Homo sapiens: one gene and its partner. The protein of the gene in region 2 purifies or fractionates together with the protein of the main gene of each other region. This does not show direct contact. Each region holds a gene or a part of one and is shown on either strand. Other genes may lie near its edges.

Region 1 (3,537 bases), on a different chromosome or scaffold from region 2:
ATTAGAGCTGGGGGTGGAGGGAGAAAGGGTTTGAGATTTGTGGTGCCTAAGAAGAGAAGCAGGTGGGGCTCTTCTGCGGTAAAGAGAAGTTCTCCCAGAAAGCATGCTAACATGAGGAAGGAAAGAAATCCCATGAGATGGCAAAACTCCTCCCAGTAACAATTGAGAACTGCCTCTTATTATTGGAAAGGGGCCACAGAACCAGTATTGAGCACATACCCTGTACTGTCTCTAATGGTTCTTTAAAAAGTTATTTTTACCTAGTTTTTTCAATTGTTTTCAGTGGGTGTGCAAACATTGGCTACTGTGACCAGAAACAGGAAAACTGCTTGACTTTTTGAAGTACCATCCTACTGTTTGTATTATTTTTAATGTAATCACATAGAAACAGTAATGATTTTACTGAGAACATCTTCTAGAGCTTACTTGGGTCCACTTGTCACCACAGAAATGCAGAATGAACCAGACAGGAAACAGGAGCTAACATGGCAGCTTTGTATAACTGCCTCCAGTTACAGGAGTCACAAATGAATAGGCATGGCTCTGTTCCAATAAAACTTTATTTACAAAAACAGGCAGCAGTCCAGTTTGGGTTAAAGGGCCAAACGTTACTGATTCCTGCTGTAGGTAGTACTTACCTGAAATAGCAAAACCTGGGTTGTAAAGCAAGGTCTGTAATTAATTTCCAACAGTTGATCAGCCGTATAACCTTGGGAAGTCATCCTACCTTTACTGAGCTTCTCCATTCTCTTACTGGACTAAACCTATACAAATGGGGACCTGTATGTGTGTGCAGGTGAAAGTCCATGAGTGTGTGAGAGAGAACATGCATGTAGCTTTCATGGATAGACTTTGGACCCTAGCTAGCCCAGAAGGTGTGACCAATATGCTTATACATGTATTTATGTTTCTCATAAACGCTCTAACACTTCATGAGATACAGCAGAAACAGTTGGGAGTGACTAAGGATTACTGGTAGTAATTTTAAGCAGCAGTAAATCTTAAGAGAACAAGATAAAAAAATCATACATACACACAATTTGCCATTAGATAAGGGACTGTAAACTTTTCAATACTACTTTTGTCTGTTTATTTGGTGGAGGAATGACGAGAGATGCACGTGCAGTAGCCAAAGATAAAAATAATAAAAAGTTAGATATGCACAAAAGTTAATCATACAAGAACTGGAAATACATTCAAATAATTGTAAGCCTATAAGAAACACTGTAAAATAGATTATCTTATGTTTAACTTTTTTTGTCTATGTATTTAATGTATTATTTCTGTTATAACCCCAAATTTTATTTATGAAAAATTAAGACCAACTTTAAGAAGCTTCAATATTCACTTTTATTATTTATAAAAAAAAATTAAGGTACCAGAGTGCATATGGTGTACTGTGATCTTGGTTTTGCAAATTTATTCATGTGTTTTACATTATTTCAATTTTAATAAACATATCATATGTGTATCTTTACAATACCTGATAAAGATTCAGCTGTCTGGCACTTACACATGTATTCATAGAGTTCATTCTGATGCTCTGAACCTCAAGAGGATGTGAAAATGACTTGCCTGTAATTACCCCAAGATGAAGATTTATTGAAGCAGTTATGCTCCAGCAACTGCCACTCATTTGTGCTGGTTCTACTTTTTCCCCTTAATTGAATGTAAACATTTGCCAAAAAAAAAAAAAAAAAAAAAAAATTCTGGAAATGAAGTTCTGTTAGTTTTTAGTCCAATAAATAATTTTAGCTACGCTTAATGTAGCTTTTTTAAGGCCTTCATACAATTGAAAAAAATTAAAGTTGAGCACGTTAAAACCCTGTTCATTTATAAAATAAAAAATAGTACTTTATAGGTTTGCAGTTAAAAGTTACCTTCCAAAACCTATCATGCATGTCATAAGCTGCAACCCAACTCGAAGTCCTAGGTGCTGGCAGGCAGGGCACATCCCCGTGCCAGCAATGTGAGGCATTAAGAAAACACCATGATGTCAGAGGTCTAGATTTACATGTATTAAGCCACACGTCAGTGAATTCTCTGATAAATACATGTCATTTTAATAATCAGTACTGGATAGTGGATGAAAACATGCATTAGACTAAAAATGCCACAAATTTGTTTTTATACCCATTCACTATAAAACTTCCTTTTTTAAAATTTAAAGTCTTGTTTCCTATTTTAGAATACGCAATAATCGGGAGGATACATGATGGGGAGCCAGTTTTCAGTAAAAGATGCACAATGGGTCCATCCAAGTAACTTCATCAGCTACAACAAAATACAATAATATATTATTATAAAGGAAGTGACAGATTTTTAAGCTCAGTATTTAGAATAAATTCTGTATTAAATAGTAACAGTAAGGTAGTAGCATATAGAACCTTCCTTCCACCAACCGTCACCCACCCATTGATCCTCCTTCCCACCAACCAACTTTTCTTACTATCAACCAACTTTCCTACCAACCAACCTATTGTTCTCATCATTATCCCTACCAACTGTCCTTTTCCCTCTTTCCTATTAACCTGTGTTCCTCCCTTCTTCCTTCCAACTTACTTGTTCCTTTCCTTCCTACCAACCTAAGTTCCTTTCATTCATTTTTTCTGAGTAACTATCATGTCAAACACTGGGAAAACAGCACTGAACAAATTCACCTCCCACTTTCAGGAAAAGCAAATAATAAGCAAATTAATAAATGAATAAACAAGTAATAAGATATTTATCAGGTGTACAGTAGAAATAATATTTGACACAATATAAACTAACTGGGGAGTTAGATGGTTAAGAAAGGATCTCTATGGAGGTGATACTCCAGTTGAGTTTGAATGACAAGAAATCTGTGCGAAAATCTGGGAAAGACATTCCATCCAGCCAGAGTAGTTAGTGCTAAGGTCCTTTGGTAGGAAAAGGTGTGGCTGTTTGTGCTAAGCAGAGATGCTGGTGTGGCAGAAGCAGAGTTTGTATGGGCAAGTGTGATATGAAATAAGTCTGGAGAGGTAGGCAGGGGCCTTATGGACCACTGGGGAGAGTTTGGATTTTATTCCAAATGTGATGGAGATTCAACAGCAGGTGTCAAAAGGCATCTTTTCCAGCTGCTGTGTGGAGAACAGGCAGCGGGGGGGGCAGAGTGGAGGGCAGACAAGTTAAGAAACACTCCCTGATGTGAACGTCGGCAGGGATCACTGGCTTTACAAACCTAAGTGCTCACGGATCAGATTCCACATGATGAGAACCACATTAGACATATCAACACCTGGCTCCAGAAAGAGTTCTCTTAATCTAGTCAAAGATCTGGAGGAGCTAATTTAAAATGTCTTACAATTTGGACTGACTGGTGAAGGTAAACAAAAAGCTCTAAGAGTAAATATGAATATAGCTTACTCTAATTATCAAACATTTTCAGAGGAACCTACTGATCAGTTTTACATCCAAAGGGTACCTTACATATAAAGTATAATTAACCTGGACTTGCCCTTTAGCTGAATCTGGCACCACCAAACTCCCCTGCCTTCACGTATCCTTTAGGCATAA
Region 2 (7,064 bases):
GGAGTTTGAGACCAGCCTGGCCAGCATGGTGAATCCCGTCTCTACTAAAAATACAAAATCAGCCGGGCATGGTGGCATGCACCTGTAATCCCAGTTACTTGGGTGGCTGAGGCAGGAGAATCGCTTGAACCTGGAGGCAGAAGCTGCAGTGAACCAAGATTGTGCCACTGCACTCCAGCCTCAGAAAGAGCGAGACTTTGTCTCCAAAAAAAAAAAAAGCGATTTTAGAAAACTCCACTTATGCTTAGATTCCATTAGGCAGCTTTTAGATATATAGCCACATGTAGATGGGAAAGTGGAGCCCTTTCAGGGAAATCATGCACCAAATTAACCAGAGGCTTCTATGAAAAAGAAGAAAAAAACTAAACACACAATTTTTGTAAAATGTAAAAAAGGTCAGTGGAAAAAGTTCAAGGATATCATAATTCAAATTATGAAAAAAAACTTCACATATAGAAGAAAACAAAAAACACACTCCAAAATGTAGAACAGTGATAACATCTCGGTGATAGATATAAGGAGAGTTTTATTCTCTTCATACTTTTCTAATCTTACAATCACATATCTATTATACATTTACAGTAAGGAATTTAAAAAATTTTATTATTTTTTCAGACAGAGTCTTGCTCTGTGGCCCAGGTTGGACTGCAGGGGCATGATCATAGCTCACCACAGCCTCAACCTCCAGGGCTCAAGCCCCAACCTCCCACCTCAGCCTCTTGAGTAGCTGGGACTACAGGCGCAATCAACCATGCCTGGCTAATTTTTGTATTTTTTGTAGAGATGGGGTTTCACCATATTGCGCAGGCTGGTCTTGAACTCCTGACCTCAAGCAATTTTCCTGCCTCGGCATCCCAAAACACTGGGATTACAGGCATGACCCACCATACCGGGACCCATTTATTTTTAAAATGCCTATGACAATATGCAATCAAGTTCCTGTCCTAGAAGGAGCTTCTGTAATAGTTCAGAAGACAAGACACAACTGAAATGCCAAGTACAGGCCTATATACCCTTTACTAAAGTGATGAAATCCAAAAATAAAAAAACTTAAAAGTTTGTTTTTTAACAAGTTTGTGGCAAACTCACTTGGCAGCAAAACCAGCCTGAACTGCCTGAGGCTATCAACATAGATTTATCTCACTTAGTATGCAAATTTGTTTCACTAAAGAAATATCAATACGTTTGATTACAGGGTGCTACCCCAAGCCCCACTGGGGATGTTGTATAATCCACAGTACATGCATCCAAAAAAAATCCCAAATTCTGAAACATCTGTCCTCTGAAGTGCCAAATGAATCACAAAGACAGCACCTTAAACGTTAGAAAATTAAGAAGGGAGTCACGGGGTTATGTGGCCATCCAAGAGTTTCCCAGAGCCTGAGCCTTGAGCTGAACCTTGAAAAATATGTGTATCTGAATAGGCAAAGTAGGATGAGGGCGCATCTGCCAAAATGAATTGTGAGAGCAAAGTAACAGAGATGGGAAGAGAGAATAGTGGGCTAGGAGATCAAGACCAGATCATATAGGTTCCTCCATACTTGGCTGAAGAGTGCCATGATTTAATGTATGGGGAAGTCATGAAGGTTTTCTTAAGTGGGTAAAAATGTAATGAAAGTGGAGTAGAGGACCTTTGGGCTGGTAATGGTTTGCAGAATGGGGGAAGTGTCACATGTATGAACCAGGCACACGATGCTAGATGTTTTCATAGGCTTCATATCATTTATTCCACACAATGATTTTACACACAAAGAAGGGCACTCAGGTTGACATATATTAACTATATATGGTTAATAAATAAAGATCAGATTTAAATCAGTCCAACTCCGTAGGTCTACCCTCTTTCTATTACCCAAGGCTGCCTCTTAGGTGGAAATGACAGACGGCTGACCAAGAGTGAAAGCACTCACAACACAATAGAAAGGCTGATGTGAAAAGAGGGCAGCCAGAGGACAACTGAGCGGTGGGGAGCCAGAAAATAAGAAAATATTATCTAATGCTGTGCTTATGCAGGGCACTCCCCAACAGCCAGAAACCCCAACCTTCTAAAGAGAATTATCTGTATTCTACATGCTGCAGTCCTTCCCCTTAATTAGAAAATGTGTTTATCACAGGAAGCTAATGTTCTGACTGAGTAGATCCCACCACCTACCTAATCACTCCCTCTAATCCAGGTGTTCCACTCTATAGGTGTGAAAATCAAGTCCCATTAAACCACACATACAATCTATTGAGAGGCTATACCCTTTATGGTTTTTTATATCACAAGTTTGGAAAATGCTACACATTATATCCTGCCCCACTTTGGAGATTCACAATACAAAGCACTTTAAACTCACAAAGTTACTGGTTCACATCAATTAATCCAGAGTCTCCACTGGTGGGAGGCTGAGGCAGACGATCGCTTGAGCCCAGGAGTTCAAGACCTGCCTGGGCAACATGGCAAAACCCCATCTCTACTAAAAATACAAAAAATTAGCCGGGCGTGGTGGTGTGGCCCTGTAGTCCTAGCTACTTGGGAGGCTAAGGTGGGAGGATTGCCCAGTCTCTCCCATTATTTGGCTATAGAACTCCTTTTCAATAGAACACACTTTGGAAAGCAATGATTTAATCCATTTATTTTCCTATTCCTTTTTTCTGTATTGAAATGGTGGATCAGTTATGAAATCATGAAAGTTTGGGCCAGGTGTGGTGGCTCACACCTATAATCCCAGCACTCTGGGAGGCTGAGAGGGGCAGATCACCTGAGGTCAAGAGTTTGAGACCAGCCTGGCCAACATGGTGAAACCCCGTCTCTACTAAAAATTAGCCATGCCTGGTAGCACATGCCTGTAATCCCAGCTACTTGGGAGGCTGAGGCAGGAGAATTGCTTGAACCTGGGAGGCAAAGGTTGCAATGAGGCGAGATTGCGCCATTGCACTCCAGCCTGGGCAACAAGAGAGAAACGCAGTCTCAAAAAAAAAAAAAAAAAAAAAAAAAAAAGTTAGTTTGCTGTGGTCAAGTTAAATCATTAACATCAGTGTATCTGAGTTAAAGGAAATTGGCCTTTCTTTGCCATATGCAAATTTATTCTACCTTTGGGGATTCATGCAAGGCAGATTGTTAGAAACTTGGGTGGGGAGGGTGCAGGGGCAGATTTACAGATCTATTTTGTCTTTAAAAAAAAAAAAAAAAAAAAAAAAGAGAGACAGGGGGTCTCACTGTATTGTCCAGATTGGATTCTAACTCCTGAGCTCAAACAATCCTCCTGCCTCAGCCTCTGGAATAGCTGGGACTACAGGCATATGCCACCACACAGGGCTTATTTTCTTGATTTTTAAAAATACACTTCTTAATAAATCTGCATTTCACTTTCTTCATTATGTTTCTCTAGCATTTGTATATTTCTCAACTAAAACTCCTTAGATTCCTCATAATTACTTGTCTTAAACACCCAAACTCCTGGCCAGGTGCAGTGGCTGCCGCCTGTTAGCCCAGCATTTTGGGAGGCCAAGGCAGGTGGATTGCTTCAGCCGGCTTCAGACCAGCCTGGGCTAACACAGCAAGACCCTGTCTCTACTAAATATACAAAAAATTAGCCAGGTGTGGTGGCACACACCTGTAGATCCAGCAAATTGAGACTGCTGTGAGTTGTGATCAGGCCACTGCACTACAGACTGGGCAATGGGAGTGAGACCCTATCTCCAAAACAACCACCACCACCACCACCACCACCAAATCCCTTACCACAGCAGGGTCTAAGCAATCTGGTATCTACTGACCTCATCTCCTACCTCCTCCTGGCTCTTGCTACATTCCAGGCACAAAAGCCTTCTGTTCTACAAACTGGCCACAAGAGTTCTCCCTGACCATAATAATGCTCATCCTCTAATTTGATAATGGACACCATTCAGCACTCAGCCCACTGTCAACTCTTCAAAAAGGCCTTCTACGATTACCATCTACATCATCCTTGTTTTACTGTGTTAGCAATTACCCTCATTTGAAATAAACTTCTTTGTCGTCTCATACACACACTAGACTGCAAGCTCCTGAGGGCAGGGACTTTCGTCTGTATGCTCAGGACCTTCAGCATTACCTGGCACACAGTACATATTTAGTAAGCATTTGTTGTATGAACTAAAGGATAAGTCACAACATGTCAGTCACCCAGCAAAACATGAGTTTCCAGTCAAGACTGGAGACTATCCCTTCAGATCAATCATTAGCAGCCCCAACATAATGTGGGAACTCAGTTGCATGAATGTCAGATGAACAAATGACCAACTTAACTGCCACAATTAAATTTGTTTATTCAAAAGTACTTCAAGAAAGTGAATTTTTAGATTTGTTCTGGCCTGGCAGAATGGCTCATGCCTGTAATCCCAGCGCTTTGGAAGGCCGAGGCGGAAGGATCACTTGAGGCTAGGATTTCAAGACCAGCGTGGGCAACATAGTGAGACCCTGTCTCTACAATAAATAAAAATTAGCCAGGCATGGTGGCGAGCACTTGTAGTCTCAGCTGCTCTGGAGGCTGAGGCAGAAGGACTGGTTAAGCTCAGAATTTTAAGGCTGCAGTGAGCTATGATCATGCCATTGCATTCCAATCTGGGCAACAGAGTAAGACTCTGTCTCTGAAAAAAGATAAAATTTATCCTGTATTACCTGTTCAAACATGCCAGTGATTTTACTTTTGTTTCAGGGTTCTGTACTTACCATTCCTTCTGCCTGCAGAGCTCTGCACACGGAAAGCTACAAGGTTTGCACTGCCCACTTCATTCTCATTCAGGACTCTTGTTTTTTTTGGAGACAGGGGTCTTTGCTCTGTCACCCAGGCTGGAGTGCAGTGGCGTGATCTCAGCTCACCGCAGTCCCCGCCTCCCAGGTTCAAGCAATTCTCCTGCCTCAACCTCCCAAGTAGCTGGGACTACAGGTGCGTGCCACCACGCCCGGCTGAGTTTTATATACAGTAAAGATGCGGTTTCACCGTGTTGGCCAGGCTAATCTCAAACTCTTGACCTCAGGTGATCTGCCGCCTCAGCCTCCCAAAGTGCTGGGATTACAGGCATGAGCCACCGTGCCCGGCCTGGAAGGACTCTTTTCAAATGTCATCTTTTTTTCAGAGATGCCTTGCTGCACCATCCTATCTAAAAGAGCATTCACCTCAGTTACTCTCCATGCCCTTACTCTACTATTTTCCAAGTACATTTTATCAGGCATATTAATTTCTTTTGTCATTTACTGTGCTTCTCTCTTCACTAGATTGTAAACTCCACTGATAGTAGGGACTTTGTGCTTTGTTCACTGCTCTCTCCCTAGAGCCTTACAATAGTGATGAGCACCCGTTATATATTTGTTGTACTATTTTAAAAAGCTAGATACCTTTGATGTTTCCATCAAAAATATTATTCTTCATCTTTATTTTGGTTGGTTGACTGTGTCAAACAGAAAGAGGTGGACACAACCTTCTAGATTCTAAAACCACAACAGGCTGAGCAAGGTGGCTCACTTCTGTAATCCCAGCACTTTGGGAGGTGGAGATGGGACGATCACTTGACCCCAAGGACCGTTCAAGACCAGACTTGGCAACAATAGTGAGATCCTGTCTCTACAAAAAATTTTAAAAATTAGCTGGGCTCAGGCCGGGCGCGGTGGCTTACGTCTGTAATCCCAGCACTTTGGGAGGCCGAAGCAGGCGGATCATCTGAGGTCAGGAGTTCGAGACCAGCCTGACCAATGTGATGAAACCCCGTCTCTACTAAAAATACAAAAAAAAAAAAATTAGCCGGGCGTGGTGGCATGCGCCTGTAATCCCAGCTACTCAGGAGGCTGAGACAGGAGAATTGCTTGAACCCGGGAGGCAGAGGTTTCAATGAGCCAAGACTGCACCATTGCACTCTAGCTCTAGCCTGGGCAACAAAAGTGAAACTCCCATCTCAAAAAAAAAAAAAAAAAAAAAAAAAAATTAGCTGGGCTTGGTGATACCCTCCTGTGGTCCTAGCTACTAGGGAAGTTGAGGCAGGAGGATTGCTTGAGCCCGGGAGGTCTAGGCTGCAATAAGCTGAGGTCTTGCCACTGCAGTCCAGTATGGGTGACTGAGTGAAACCCTGTCTCCAAAAATAAAATAAAATAAAATAAAATAAAATAAAAATAAATAAATAAAACCACATAATAGAATGAAACCTAAAATGATTAAGTTGAGATGCTAGGGTAGGACTATTTTTAAGTTTAAAAAAAAGTGAGGGGTTATATAAATATGCATGTTATAATCCCTCAAAGTTAAAATACTACATAGATCCCAGAATCTTAATACTCTTTTTTGAGACAGGGTCTGGGTCTGTTACCTAGGCTGGAGAAATGCAGTGGTGTAATTCTGGCCCACTGAAACCTCTGCCTCCTGGGCTCAAGCCATCCTCCTACTTCAACCTCCCAAGTAGCTGGGACTACAGGCACACACCACCACACCTGGCTAATTTTTGTGTTGTTTCTGTAGACATGGTTCCAGTGTTGCCCAGGCTGGTCTGGAACTCCTGAGCTCAAGTGATCCGCCCACCTTGGCCTTCCAAAGTTTATTCTTTGGGAATATTCTTTAAGGAACTATTTGTCAACAAATCCTTTTTATATCGCCTTGCAGATATAGTCTATAAAACCGAATTCTAAGCTTATCCTTAATTTGAGAAAATAAGAGAAATCAGGGACTTTTAGAGAACATTTTACAGGTATTCATAATTATCAACAAGATCAAGCTCTAATTATCTTATGCAACCACAAGTAAAGGTACTTTGACACTCTGAAATATTAGCAATATATAAATGCAAAAAGTGTTACTGATCTAAAAATGACTCAAACTAGAAACAAAACATTCATTTTGGCCAAGTAGGGTGGCTCATGCCTGTAATCCCAGCTCTTTGGGGGGCCAAGGTAAGCAGATTGGTTGAGTCCAGGAGTTTGAGACCAACCTGGGCAACATGGTGCCATCTCTACAAAAAAAAAATAAAAATTAGTTGAGTGTGGTGGTGCACGCCTGTAGTCCTAGCTACTCGGGAGGCTGAGGTAGGAGGATAGACTGAGCCCAGGTCAGCCC

What was found. The genes of interacting proteins can lie anywhere in the genome.
Region 1: the proteins of CSE1L (region 2) and TPP2 fractionate together in Homo sapiens (co-fractionation; 2 studies listed by BioGRID). This does not show direct contact.

Annotation. Positions count from the first base shown.
Region 1 is NC_000013.11:102,676,964-102,680,500, reverse strand, and holds the end of TPP2 (tripeptidyl-peptidase 2), read right to left. Parts: intron 2,275-3,537; coding exon 2,185-2,274; 3' UTR 543-2,184; downstream 1-542. UniProt on the Homo sapiens protein: Cytosolic tripeptidyl-peptidase that releases N-terminal tripeptides from polypeptides and is a component of the proteolytic cascade acting downstream of the 26S proteasome in the ubiquitin-proteasome pathway.
Region 2 is NC_000020.11:49,049,267-49,056,330, reverse strand, and holds part of CSE1L (exportin-2), read right to left. Parts: intron 1-7,064. UniProt on the Homo sapiens protein: Export receptor for importin-alpha. Mediates importin-alpha re-export from the nucleus to the cytoplasm after import substrates (cargos) have been released into the nucleoplasm.